2 linked regions of the Homo sapiens genome follow. The protein of the gene in region 2 purifies or fractionates together with the protein of the main gene of each other region. This does not show direct contact. Each region holds a gene or a part of one and is shown on either strand. Other genes may lie near its edges.

Region 1 (7,028 bases), on a different chromosome or scaffold from region 2:
TTTTAAGACAGTTTAGAGTTCCAAGTAAGAAACTTATAAATGAAGTTGATAGTGACAACTTTATAAATTGAACTAATTACCCTTGATATGAGAATAAATTGTTTTAATCCAGTTAATATATGCATATAGTTTTAAGAGAACCAAAAGGCTTTTTTTTTTTTTTGAGACGGAGTTTCGCTCTTGTTGCCCAGGCTGGAGTCCAATGGTATGATCTTAGCTCACCGCAACCTCTGCCTCCAAGGTTCAAGCGATTCTCCTGCCTCAGCCTCCCCAGTAGTTGGGATTACAGGCACGCATTACCATGCCCAGCTAATTTTGTATTTTTAGTAGAGACGAGGTTTCTCCATGTTGGTCAGGCTGTTCTCAAACCCCCAACCTCAGGTGATCACCCACCTCAGCCTCCCAAAGTGCTGGGATTACAGGTGTGAGCCACCGCATCCGGCTTAAAAGACTTTTGACAAACACAGCAGGCTCTTGCTTTTGTCTTTTTTATCCCTCAGGCTCTACTTTCCAGGGGTAGCTACTACCTCAGCTAGGTCTGTTTATTTTTTCTTCCTCTTTTTTTACTTTCGTCATTCTAAATCAATGTAGAATAAGTCTTTGACTTTCTAGTATCATAACTGAGCTCTTTCTCATTTCTCTCTTAAATCCTCCAATGTAGTTACGTAACTTTTTTGTAAAAATAGCAGTATTTACATTATTGTGTACACAGGTATTGCTAAATAGTGACTTATGATTTTTTTTATACATTTTTGTTTTTCCCACAGCAAATAATTGCATTTTATCAAAATTGCGTTTTGATTCGTTACCTATTTATCTTTGGCTGTGTTCCCTCAACTACTCCAAGAAGTATGTTAAATGCCTTTTGATTTTTTTTTTTTCCAGGTAGCACATTAAATCATCTATCAGTGCCACTTGGTTTCCTCTTAGAGACTTCTTGGTCTGGAGCATTCCATCCTCTTGCTCCAATCTAGATAGTACGATTATTTTTTCTGGGACTTCCTGTTACTTCTTTCCTGTCTTGGAACCTCTGTTTTTTAGATCTCCTGTCTTCCTTTTTCTTGGTTTGCTTCATTTTGCTACTATGTATGTATCCTCAGTAGCTTCTTAGGAAGGAATGATGGGAGATAAATTACTTGAGGCCTTGAATGTCTGAATGTATCTATCCTGTCCTCATACTTTATAGATGGTTTGGCTGAATTTAAAATATTAAGTAGAAATACATTTTTTCATAATTTTGATGGCATATTCACAGTTTTCTGTCTTAAGGGTTTTTGATGAAAAGTCCAAAGCCATTCTGATGCCTCTTTTTTTCTGTTTTTTTGAAGCTCAGGTTCTTTTTCTCTGGCATTCTGAAGTTTTATAAGTTTTTGTGTGGTTGGTTGGTTGGTTCTTTCCTTCCTTTCTTCCTTTTCTTTCTTGTATTACCTTAGTGGGTCCTTTCAATCTAGAGACTCTTTTTAGTTTTCAGAAATGCTTTTTTTTTTTTTAATAATTCCCACCCTTTATTTTCTCTCTCTCTGTGTGTGTGTGTGTGTGTGTGTGTGTGTGTGTGTGTGTGTATTTCTTTCTGAGATGTCTGTTGGTTTGGTTGTTGAACCCACTACAAATGATCTTTAAATTTTCTTAACTAATCTCATGTCTTACGTATTTCTTTGTACTGGAAGGAGTGGGAGGGGGGGAATGGTTCTCAATTTTAATGATCATGTTTTTAAATTTTAGAATCTTTTTCTGTTTCCATTTCATTGCATCTTATTTTATGGATGTATTATCTTTACTTATCTCTGATGTGTGTATTTTTATTTTTTCTTTGTGTTTAATATATTTTTAATATTTCTTCTGTTTCCTCCAGTGTGGTTATTCATTTCAGGGATCTTTTCTTTGTTTGTTTAAGTCATAAATATCTGGTGATCCTTGACTGTCTATAATGAAGAAAAAGATCCTGAGGAGCTGATTGCAGAGGAGAGAACATGTGTGTATTGGTGGTCTAGTGACTTGTGAGTTCAGGTGGACTTTTCATTGGGAGTCTGCCCCGAATATCAACACCTTTACATCTCGTTTGGGGCCAGTGTTCACAATGAAGAAATCATCATCTCCTGCCTCTGGTATGCTTGGTGATATGCCAGCTGCCAGGGTTTGGGTTACCTGGCTGAGGGAGGGATGGAGGCTGTAGCCTTCGACTTCTGGCTACAGTTCTCCTGTCACTGTGATTCAGTTTCTTCAGAAAAAACTTTGGGTTTCCTGCTGGAACTGGGGATCCAAAAGCTTTGAACACCTCTTTCGGTGGCTCCCCCCTTGTCTAGGCTAAGCCTCACATCAGCCTTTGGCATCTCCTTGGTGCCTCAAGACCTGAGCCTCTTGGAGGTCCTGAGGGGCAGTGACCATTCCTTCAAGTACTTTGCCATCTTGCAAAAGTTTGTTTAAAAAAGCATGTTGTCTTTCCTTTTCTGTTTGTCCTTATGGTTTGATGTCTTTGTGATTTTTTTTTTTTAAACTATCATTTTAGAGGAATTTTGGAAGGAAATGGAGGTAAGGGATTATGGTCATTCCACAATGTGTAAATGGCAGTTAGGGTTTGGGTTTAACTATTGAAGATGACGTGTGGCAGTCTTTTTATATGAACAATATTACGAGTAGTTAATGGTGGTTGTAGTAGTAGTTGACACTTTTAAAAGTGCTGTCTTTTGTCTGTGTGGGGCATAGAGGTCATCCCTGTGTTATGTACTGTCATTTCCATTTTATAGATGAGTGTTAGTCTGCTCAGGCTGCTGTAACAAAGTACCATAAATTGGGTGGATTGTAAACAACAGAGATTTATTTCTCACAGTTTTGGAGGCTGGGAAGTCCAGGATCAAGGCTTTGGTAGATTTGATATCTGCTGAGAGCCCTCTTCCTGGTTTATGGATACTGCTTTCTCCCTGTGTTCTCACATGGTGGAAGGGGCAAACGAGCTCCCCTGGGTCTTTTTATAAGGGCTCTAATCCCATTCATGAGGACTGCTCTTATGAGCTAATCACCTCCCAAAGGGCCCTACCTGCTAATACCATCCCTTAGTGGTTAGGATTTCAACATAGAAATTTTGGGGTGACACAGAGAAATGAGAAAACAATAATCTTAGAGTAGGTATGTATTAATGACTAGCCTGGTTTTTTGGTAGTAGTAGGGCACACGGTCCTGATGGAAGTGTATAAGTTCTGAAACACCGAAAGCTTCAGAAGCTTTTAAACTCTGGTTGGCCTTCCTGTGTTCCTGGGCCCTGGTTCATCGCTTGCATTTACAAGCCTGTTACTTGCATAACAGGCTGCAATGTAGGCATTCATTTCTGCATTTTACTGATGAGGACCCTGATTCAGGGCCTTTTGGACAGTGAGTAGAAGGCCAGGTCTTGACTCAGTCCTGCCTGAGACCTGAATTCATACTGTCTCTTTATCAGCTCTGGAGGAGTGCAATTAACCAAAAACTCAAAGAGTAGAACCGCAAGCCTCCTGCCACAGGTGCTTGTTTGTGGTCTTTATTATTATGCTAATTATTCTTGCATCCTCCCATGTTCTTTAATTGATAATTTTCATTGTACTGAGCTCTGTGGAATTCCGGAGCCTGTGAAGGTGGCATATGGCTGGGCAGTGCCAGAAGCTTGGGAAGAACATGCTGGTGGGTGGGTGGGGAATGGTATAAACTGGTTATGCCAACAGTGGTGGTGGTGATAGGGGTCAGGGGGACTTTTGGGAAGAGGCCCCATCTCCCACCAGTTAGAAATTAACTTTGGATAACTTGCTTCTCCTCTTAAAATAAATATCTTCTGGAAAAGTCAAGAATGTTCACATTTTATTTAAAATCAAGTCAATACTAGTTGAAATCACTGTGTCCCAAATCAGTCCAGAAAATTTTTTTGAAGCTAAACCAAGTACCATATATTGTGGTAGAAAATGACAATTCAAAATTATTACACTCCTTTCCCTGAAGATCTCAGAATTTTGTAGGGGAGACTTGCATTTATGACTGTAACAGAGATAAGAGTTATATTGCTGGTTGACATAAGTTATTGTAGGAGCACTTACTTTTGACTGTGGAAAGGGCGGAGGGGAGACAGGCTTAGAGAGTTTAGGAAACTTGTCCCAGGGAAAAAAAAGACATTTGAGCCTCATCTTGAAGGATGAATTTGATAGGCAGAAAAGAGCAGTTCATACCAGGCTGAGAAAGTAGTGTGAACAAAGACATAGAGGGTGGAAGCAGCTGTGTGAAATTGTGGGGTAGGAAAAATCTAATGTGGCTGAGGTGAAAAATTAGCAAAGCCATGGAGCGCCACAGGATAAAGCTGGAAGGTAGGCTGAGGTTAGAGTAGGAATTTGAACTCTTACAGGTGAATTCTTCAGTGAGCTGCTAAAGAATGCAGACTAGGAGAGTGCGCAGTCAGGTCTGGGTTATAGGGAAGATAACTTTGGCCCCAGTGAAAAGGATGGCTTTGGAGAATGAAATGCTGGATCTGGGAAATGAGATAGAGCCAACCTTGTGATGATAAGAGGGATCAACTAAGGCAGTTGAAGGGGTGGGATGGATTTGTGAGGAATTTGGTGAGTTTGGAGAAGACTTAGTAGAAGAGACTTTAGGGCTAAAGAAAGGGGAGGAGTCACAGAGGAATCTAGGGTTTCAGATTTGGGCAACTGAACCAAAGGACCCTTTCCTTTTGGGAGAAGTGGTTGGTCAAGGGAAAGAAAAAGGAGATGAACCATGTATTCCTCTCCTCCCAGCACCCCTCTCTCCTAAATCTCAGAGCCCATGCTTGGTGGGGAGGAGGGGTGGAGGGTTGAAGGTGTCCTCTGCCCATGAGTCTGGCATAACCTGCCAGAGGGCCCAGATCCTGGGTGGGTTTTTGGGAGGTTAGCACTCTGCAGCAAATCCTTAACCCTAGGCGTTTTGGTGGAGTTGGTATTTATTTGAATCCATGTGTTCTTCATTGGGAGACAGGCAGAGACATTGTGCAATTGTGGGTTTGAGGGTTGTTTTTTTTCCTCATGCTACACATGTGAGAGAACTCTATCCAATTATGGCTAAACCTGTCCCCTGTGAGTCACATCCTGAGTTGACTGGTCAATTCCAAAGGTGCTGCCTAAAATGCTGTTTGGATTTTAAGAATCACTTTTGGGACAAATCAAACATGTGAGTATTTATTCAGGCACCTGAGTTGAGAAGTTCCATAGCATTACTTTTGGTGTTTTGATGCAGTTACGCCAATGTTCTGAAAAATCTTGCCAGCTACACATCCTAAAGCAAAACAAAAACTTGTACATGAAACAGAACCATTAGCTACTCTAAAATTATGTCACACTTAAAGGTATACATTTTTGTGCGTTGTTGATGTAAATCAAGTGCAATATTTTCTAATAAAAATTTTATTAAACAGCATTCATTTGTGAAGGTCCTCTTAAAATGTGCCAAAATAAACGTGTGTGTATTGCTCAGTTACATAATAAACAGTTGTTGAATGATTCTTTTTGTGTGTTCAGCAGTGATAATGCTGAGTGGATTTCATAGGTCTCATTCTTATCTTTTTTTTTTTTTTGAGACGGAGTTTTGCTCTTGTCACCCAGGCTGGAGTGTAATGGCATGATCTCGGCTCACTGCAACCTCTGCCTCCTGGGTTCAAGCAATTCTCCTGCCTCAGCCTCCTGAGTAGCTGGGATCACAGGCGTCCACCACCATTCCCAGCTAATTTTTGTATTTTTGGTAGAGATGGGATTTCAGCATGTTGGCCAGTCCAATCTTGAACTCCTGACCTCAGGTGATCCACCCACCTTGGCCTCCTTTCAAAGTGCTGGGATTACAGGCGTGAGCCACCTTGCCCGGCCTCATTCTCATTCTTATATAAATTTTAAGCTGGAATAGACAGCACACAAGTCTCTAGTTAGGGATCACCTGTAATTTAGGGAGGAGGAGGAAGAGCGTATCTTGCTGTATGCCAGGTACTTTACATATGTTCTCTTTTATCAACCATAGGAAGTCGGTGGCATTGACTGTTTTTTGTTTGTTTGTTTTTAAACAGATAAAGCTGAGATGCTGAGGTTGTGGGCAATTAACAGAATTTGCTGTAGGTCACAGAGATGTGTGGGGCTATGTGACTCCAAAGTGCGTGCTTTCTCTACTGTGCTGCCTTTGAAGGTTGACAGTTGACTTAGTCTTTAACCAAAATCATCTGAGAAGCTTTAACAAACTACAGATTCCTTGACCTACCCTGAGCAATTTGTTGAATTGATCTGAGATGGGGCTCAGGTAAATTAACGTTTTGAATGCCATGTTTAATTAATTACAGGAGGTACAGGTTTTCCACATTTGAACGTCTCTGAAATCAGAACCATGTTATAATCAGTGGGGAGAGTCATCAGTTAATAGCTTTTTTCTTTCTTAGTGGCACAAAAAATAAGGATGTACTTTAGATTAAATGAAATATGATATTATAAAAAGGTGATACTGTAAAGGGAACTTAAATACATAGTTTGTCACCTTTCTTTTTTTTTTTTTGAGATAGAGTCTTGCTCTTTCTCTCAGGCTGGAGTACAGTGGTGCAATCTCAGCTCACTGCAGTCTCTGTCTCCCAGCTTCAAGCGATTGTCGTGCCTAAGGCTCCTGAGTAGCTTGGGACTACAGGCGTGCACCACCACGCGTGGCTAATTTTTGTATCTTTTTTTTTTTTTTTTTGGTAGAGATGGCGTTTCACCATGTTGGCCAGACTGGTCTCGAACTCCTGACTTCAAGTGATTTCCCTCCCCCACCAACCCTGTCTGGGCTTCCCAAAGTGCTGGGATTACAGGTGTGAGCCACCATACCAGGCCTCCACCTTTTTTATGTGCATATGCATGTGTTTGTCACAACTTTCAGAATTGTAAAATTCACTGGTGGTATTTATTATTTGCTTACAGCAATAGCTGTGTAGTAATGCCCTTGCAGGGAAATCATAAAATGAATGAGATATTGTCATTAGATTAAGAGCAATAGCAAGGTTACTTTTCAGCCAAGAAGCTGCAGGCAAGGAG
Region 2 (7,173 bases):
GTTACACTTTACCCTAGATACTTAAATTTCCTCATAAAGCTACAATTACTGATACCAAGAATTCCTCCAAATAAGGGTTGTGGTCAGACTTTAGCTTGAGCTAGCACGACAACAAAACTTCAAGGCTGCAGGTAACAAAACAAAACCCTGTCTCAAAAAAAAAAAGAGTAGGCAGAAATTAGGCATAGGCCTCAAACACTGTTGCTGGCAGTTTCAACTCACAAAACGTCTTCAAAAAGCAATTAGTCAACATCTACCAAAATGTTAAATATGTGCAATGTTTTGATGCAGCAATTCCACTTCTTCAGAAATACTCAACACATATACACAAGGATATATGTACAAGGATATATTCACTGCATCATTGTAAAGAAAACATGAAATAATAAAACGCCCATCGATAAAGTCCTGGTTAGATAAATCACCGTATCCAATCACTGGAATACTATGCAGCCATGAAACAATGGAACAATCACCAATATAATTTAGTGAAAGAAACGAAAGTGCAGAGGAGTGAATATAGTTTATTATCATTTGCACTTAAAAGGGGATTAGATTTATAGTATAGTCACACACATGCTTGCCATGCAATAGAGTATTCTGCAAGACTACACAAAAAACTGGTAACAATGGCTGCCCCTTTTTGTGCTGTTGAATCTTTTCATTTTCTTCTAGTCATGTACATACACCCTTTTTAATATTCAAAAAGCTATCTGAAGCCTGGCCTTGTGGCTGACTCCTGTAATCCCAGCATTTTGGGAGGCTGAGACAGGAGGGTTGCTTGAGGCCAGGAGTTCCAGACCAGCCGGAGAAATAAAACGAGACAACTGTCTCTAAAACAAAAATTTTTTTTAATAAATGTTTTTAAAAAGCCAGCTAAGGAACACAATTTTACGAATTATCTGTTCAAAAACTGAGTTGGCTTGTGTTAATTTCTTTATTGCTACTGATAATAACTGTGAGCCCATTCCAAGATTTGTAAGGCTTTGCCAAACTCAATGTCTTAGAAGTAGCTCATTTAGGAATTCTGAAAAGTACCCAATTTTAAATGTGAACTATTTTCTACAGAATCAAGGATAAATATCAAGGATAAATAATACCAAAGATGAATCTATATGAAAATGAATTTGTTATTTATTTTGTGAAAGCAAGCCTTTGGTTTAATCATTTAGAAACTCTAGCGTCAATAACAGACCCCTAAAATTCACTAATCAAGATTCACTAATCAAGGACCCTGACTCACTGCTGGGTGAATGAGTAAGATTCTGACATCACCTTACTGAGACGGACGTTAGTGTAACAAAAAATAACATCAGGTGTCCCCCACGCCGATCTGCCACTTGGAAAAAGTATTTAACACAAAGAAATGGTTCAAGAGCTCAGGATGTTTTTCTCTCTATTGATATAAAGATATAAAATAGAACAATTTGGATGAAAAATCATTCCAGAGTCCCAAGTAACATTTGGCTACTGAACTCCAAGTAATTCTGTGTCACAGGAGGTTAAAAAAAAAAAAAAAAAAGGCATCTCCACAAATCCGAGGTACCAAGGCCCCTTGGCAATTATAAACGGTCAGCTGAGCACCATATGGCAAAGCAAGCCTCCCTTCAGACAGTTATCACTTGGTGGCTGATTAATTTCAATGGCTTATTAGATAGGCCTCTCCAGACCCCTTCCCAAGAGGAGGAGTCGGGTTGGGGGACCTGTGTCTGTTCTCTTCCCGGTGCTTTGTGTCTTCCAGGCTTGAAAGCATCCCGGTGATGGTGCTGCCATCATTTCCCTTGGGGGTAGAGGGTCTTTTCTGAAAGTGTTTGTTCACCCGTTCGGAACCTAGAATTCCTTTGGCGCTTTGCCTTTCCGCTCGCTCCAGCCGGGCGCTGCCCACCAGGTGTCCCACTGCAGACCTCTCCCCGCGACACCGACGCCCACCGCAGCTCGCCCCTTCCCCCCGCGCGCGCAAGCCCTGGCCAGGTGGCCGCGGCTTACCGGTGGGCGCGCTGTCCAGGATGCGGAGGTCGTAAGCCCCGGAGCAGCGGTAGTTGGCAGCTGTGCCGTTGTCCCACACTACCACCACCTCCTCGGGGCTCTCGAAGCTCCGGACGGTGCCCACATGGCCCTCGCCGCCGTCCTGCTTCCCCCACTTCCAGTCCGGGCCGCGCACTACCCGAGCGCCAACCCCTTCCACCATCACCCGGTTATTCCGGGAGTTACTCATCGGGGCCCGGGCGGTGGGCTCCGCCGCTGCCGCCGCCGCCGCCGCCGCTGCCGCCGGGGGGCCCGTGAGGGAGTTGGGCCCGGGCCGGACTCTAGGCGTCGGCGGGGGCGGCAGCGAGCCCCGGGGGACGTGAGAATAACTCACGGGGGCGGCGGCGCGGTCCCCGCGGAGCCCAAAGCCGCTGCCCAGCTGTCGCCGCCGCGCCCCCCGCTCGGAGTGGAGGGCGGCCCGCGGCTGCTCGGAGGCGGCGGCGGAGAGCGGGCAGAGGGGAGGGGGCCGTGGGCGGGGACTCTCCCGCTTCCTCCGGGCTCCCCGGCCAGGCTACAGCGACGGCCGCAAGGAAACCACGCTCTCCCCCGGCCGGCAGCGCGAGGAGCGCAGGGGGCCGGGGGAGGCTAGCCCGAGGGGGGCGGCGGGGAGCAAGCTTAACTGCCGGCCTTTCTGCCACCCCGGCCCCTCGCTCGGGGGCGGGCACCCAAGCGCCGGCGCCGCCTCCTCCCCCGTGGGCAGCGGTGGTACCTCCCGGCGTCCGGCGAGCGCCCGGGCCCTCAGGCCCCCTTCTCTCTGCCCCCGCACCAGCCGCCGCGCTCCGCCCCGCCACAGAGTCCCAGCCGGGCGAGAGCGACTCCACATCCGGGTACCGCCGTACCCAAGGCCGGAGCGGCACCTTCTCAGAGTGTCTAGGAGGGGGATCCTCGGCAATAATAGAGTGGGAAGGCTTCCAGAGAGCCGCGCGATCGCGGGAAGAAAGGAGGAGAAAACTGATCCCTAAGCGTCTCTCCAGGGTCCAAGGAGAGTGCGCATGCGCGCGGTCTAGAAAAAGGGCGGACGGTTGCCCAACCCCAGCCCCGGGCGATGGAGGGGCGGGCCCAGGGGCGGATCCCTGGAGTTGCCGCCCGGTGGTGCCGCGCGCCCAATGAGCTATGAGGAAAGCGGTTAGGCCGTCCTGGAGGCGGGGCTGGAGAAAGTGAGGGTGGGGAAGCTACCCGGGCTGCTGGAGCTGTGCGGCTGTGATGTGGCCAGTTTTTCACTAACTGCTAGTTTTCCTAGGCGAACTAAATGTGAATTAGGGATTCCATATTCTTTTAGTCTTCTTTTTTAACGAAGGTAGAAATACATTCACAAATTCAGGGCGATCTGTATTTGTGTGTAAATTGAAAACATTTCAAACCAGACAGAGCAGGTTAGTAGTGTGTTTTTAAGCTGAACAGCATGGTATGGAATGTTGTGAGCAACGGTAAAGACTTTTAGAAGGTGTGTCTTGACTTTATGCAGAATTAGGGTGATAGGCAGACTCCAAACTTTGCTCATTAATAATTGCCTCCACTCACGAAAAAATTCAGTCCCTAATTACAAAATACAACCTTCAAAGGAAGATTCGAAGACTGTAAGAGAAGTTTCTGGTTGCCGTTATTCAAATGACATTATGCTGCATAGGGTTTAAAACCAGTGTTTCCACAGGCCAGCACTGTTGGCACCGTTAGCATGCATTGTTAGCATAAACTGTTGCTTTTCCTGATAGTCAAAGGAGGGAAATGCTAACAGAATGGATAATCAAGGGAAAAGACAAGAAAACGGACGTAAAATGTACCCAAGGAATTACTATGTACTGAAATAAAATTTTTTTTGTTTGGTTTTTTTTGTTGTTGTTTTTTTTTTTGCTTTGTTTTTGAGACAGGGTCTCACTGTCAGCCAGGCCGGAGTGCAGTGGCGCCATCTCCGTTCCCCGCAACCTCCGCCTCCTGGGTTCAAGGGGTCCGCCCACCTCAGCCTTCTGAGTAGCTGGGACCTCAGGAACGCACAACCACGCCCAGCTAATTTTTTGTATTTTTGGCAGAGATGAGCGGGGGGGCAGTGGGGAGCTTCTTGGGGGATATATCTCACTATTTTCCCTGGCCGGACTGGTCTCGAACTCCTGAGCTCAAGCAATCCTCCCACCTCAGCCTCCCAAAGTGTTTATCCCAGGGATAAAGCCAACTTGATAGTGGTGGATAAGCTTTTTGATGTGCTACTGGCTTCTGTTTGCTAGTATTTTATTGAAGATTTTCGCATCGATGTTCATCAGGGATATTGGCCTGAAATTTTCTTTTTTTGTTGTGTCTGTGCCAGGTTTTGGTATCAGGATGATGCTGGCCTCGTAAAATGAGTTTTACGAAGGAGGGAGGATTCCCTCTTTTTCTGTTGTTTGGAATAGTTTTAGGAAGTACAGTAACAGCTCCTCTTTGTACCTCTGGTAGAATTCGGCTGTGAATCTGTCTGGTCCTGGACTTCTTTTGGTTGGTAGGCTATTACTTATTGCCTCAATTTCAGAACTTGTTATTGGTCTGTTTAGGGATTCGACTTCTTCCTGGTTTAGTCTTGGGAGAGTGTATGTGTCCAGGAATTTATCCATTTCTTCTAGATTTTCTAGTTTATTTGCGTAGAAGTTTTTATAGTATTCTCTGATGGTAGTTTGTATTTCTGTGGGATTGTTGGTGATATCCCCTTTATAATTTTTTATTGCATCTATTTGATTCTTCTCTCTTCTTCTGCATTAGTCTGGCTAGTGGTCTATCTATGTAGTTGATCTTTTTCAAAAAAACAGCTCCTGGATTCATTAATTTTTTTGAAGGGTTTTTCGTGTCTCTACCTCCTTCAGTTCTGCTCTGATCTTAGTTATTTCTTGTCTTCTGCTAGCTTTTGAATTTGTTTGCTCTTGCTTCTCTAGTTTTGTTGGTTTTTTTTTTTTTTTTTTTTTTTTTTTTTTTTTTTTTTTTTTTTTTTTTTTTTTTTTTTTTGAGATGGAGTCTCACTTTGTGGCCCAGGCTGGAGTGCAGTGGTGTGATCTCAGCTCACTGCAAGCTCCATCTCCCGGGTTCACGCCATTCTCCTGACTCAGCCTCCCGAGTACCTGGGACCACAGGTGCCTGCCACCATGCCCAGCTAATTTGTTGTATTTTTAGTAGAGATGGAGTTTCACCATTCTAGCCAGGATGGTCTCCATCTTCTGACCTCGTGATCCGCCCGCCTCGGCCTCCCAAAGTGCTGGGATTACAGGCGTGAGCCACCGTGCCCAGCCTCTCTAGTTATTTTAATTGTGATGCTAGAATGTTGATTTTAGATCTTTCCTGCTTTCTCTGTGGGCATTTAGTGCTATAAATTTCCCTCTACACACTGCTTTAAATGAGTCCCAGAGATTCTGGTACATTGTGTCTTTGTTCTCACTGGTTTCAAAGAACATCTTTACTTCTGCCTTAATTTCCTTATTTACCCAGTAGTCATTCAGGAACAGGTTTTTCAGTTTCCATGTAGCTGTGAGGTTTTGAGTGAGTTTCTTAATCCTGAGTTCTAATTTGATTGCACTATGGTCTGAGAGACTGTTTGTTATGATTTCCATTCTTTTGCATTTGCTGAGGAGTGTTTTACTTCCAATTATGCAGAATAACCAGCTAGCCTCATAATGACAGGTTCAAATTCACACATAACAATATTAGAATTTTAGAATAAGTGCGATGTGGTGCTGAGAAGAATGTATATTCTATTGATTTGGGGTGGAGAGTTCTGTAAATGTCTATTAGGTCTGCTTGGTCCAGAGCTGAGTTCCAGTCCTGGATATCCTTGTTAATTTTGTCTTGTTGATCTGTCCAATAGTGACAGTGGGGTGTTAAAGTCTCCCACTATTATTGTGTGGGAGTCTAAGTCTCTTTGTAGGTCTCTAAGAACTTGCTTTATGAATCTGGGTGCTCCCGTATTGGGTGCATATATATTTAGGATAGTTAGCTCTTCTTGTTGCATTGATCCCTTTACCATTATGTAATGCCCTTCTTTATCTCTTTTGATCTTTGTTGGTTTAAAGTCTGTTTCATCAGAGACTAGGATTGCAACCCTTGCCTTTTTTTGCTTTCTATCTGCTTGGTAAATATTCCTCCATCCCTTTATTTTGAGCCTATGTGTGTCTTTGTACATGAGATGGGTCTCCTGAATACAGCACACCAATGGGTCTTGACTCTTTATCCAATTTGCCAGTGTGTGTCTTTTAATTGGGGCACTTAACCTGTTTACATTTAAGTTTAATATTGGTATGTGTGAATTTGATCCTGTCATTATGATGCTAGCTGGTTATTTTGCCCATTAGCTGATGCAGTTTCTTCATAGCGTCGATGGTCTTTAAAATTTGGCATGTTTTTCAGTGGCTGGTACTGGCTGTTCCTTTCCATGTTTAGTGCTTCCTTCAGCTCTTATAAGGCAGGCCTGGTGGTGACAAAATCTCTCAGCATTTGCTTGTCTGAAAATGATTTTATTTCTCCTTTGCTTATGAAGGTTAGTTTGGCTGGATATGAAATTGTGGGTTGAAAATTCTTTTCTTTAAGAATGTTGAATATTGGCCCCCACTCTCTTCTGGCTTGTAGGGTTTTTGCCGAGAGATCCGCTGTTAGTCTAATGGACTTCCCCTTCTAATGGGATTCCTTTGTGGGTAACCCGACCTTTCTCTCTGGCTGCCCTTAACATTTTTTCCTCATTTCAAGCTTGGTGAATCTGATGATTATGTGTCTTAGGGTTGCTCTTCTCGAGGAGTATCTTTGTGGTGTTCTCTGTATTTCCTGAATTTGAATGTTGGCCTGCCTTACTAGGTTGGGGAAGTTCTCCTGGATGATATCCTGAAGAGTGTTTTCCAACTTGGTTCCATTCTCCCCGTCACTTTCAGGTACACCAATCAAACATATATTTGGTCTTTTTACATAGTCCCATATTTCTTGGAGGCTTTGTTCTTTTCTTTTCACTCTTTTTTCTCTAATCTTGTCTTCTCACTTTATTTCATTGAGTTGATCTTCAGTCTCTGATATCCCATCTTCCACTTGATCGATTCAGCTATTGATACTTGTGTATGCTTCACCAAGTTCTTGTGCTGTGTTTTTCAGCTCCATCAGGTCATTTATGTTCTTCTCTAAATTGGTTTTTCTAGTTAGCAATTCATCTAA

What was found. The genes of interacting proteins can lie anywhere in the genome.
Region 1: the proteins of MIB1 (region 2) and RYK purify together in Homo sapiens (affinity purification with mass spectrometry; 2 studies listed by BioGRID and IntAct, with this or other methods). This does not show direct contact.

Annotation. Positions count from the first base shown.
Region 1 is NC_000003.12:134,240,838-134,247,865, reverse strand, and holds part of RYK (tyrosine-protein kinase RYK isoform 2 precursor), read left to right. Parts: intron 1-7,028. UniProt on the Homo sapiens protein: May be a coreceptor along with FZD8 of Wnt proteins, such as WNT1, WNT3, WNT3A and WNT5A. Involved in neuron differentiation, axon guidance, corpus callosum establishment and neurite outgrowth.
Region 2 is NC_000018.10:21,736,626-21,743,798, reverse strand, and holds the start of MIB1 (E3 ubiquitin-protein ligase MIB1), read right to left. Parts: upstream 3,008-7,173; 5' UTR 2,216-3,007; coding exon 1,987-2,215; intron 1-1,986. UniProt on the Homo sapiens protein: E3 ubiquitin-protein ligase that mediates ubiquitination of Delta receptors, which act as ligands of Notch proteins.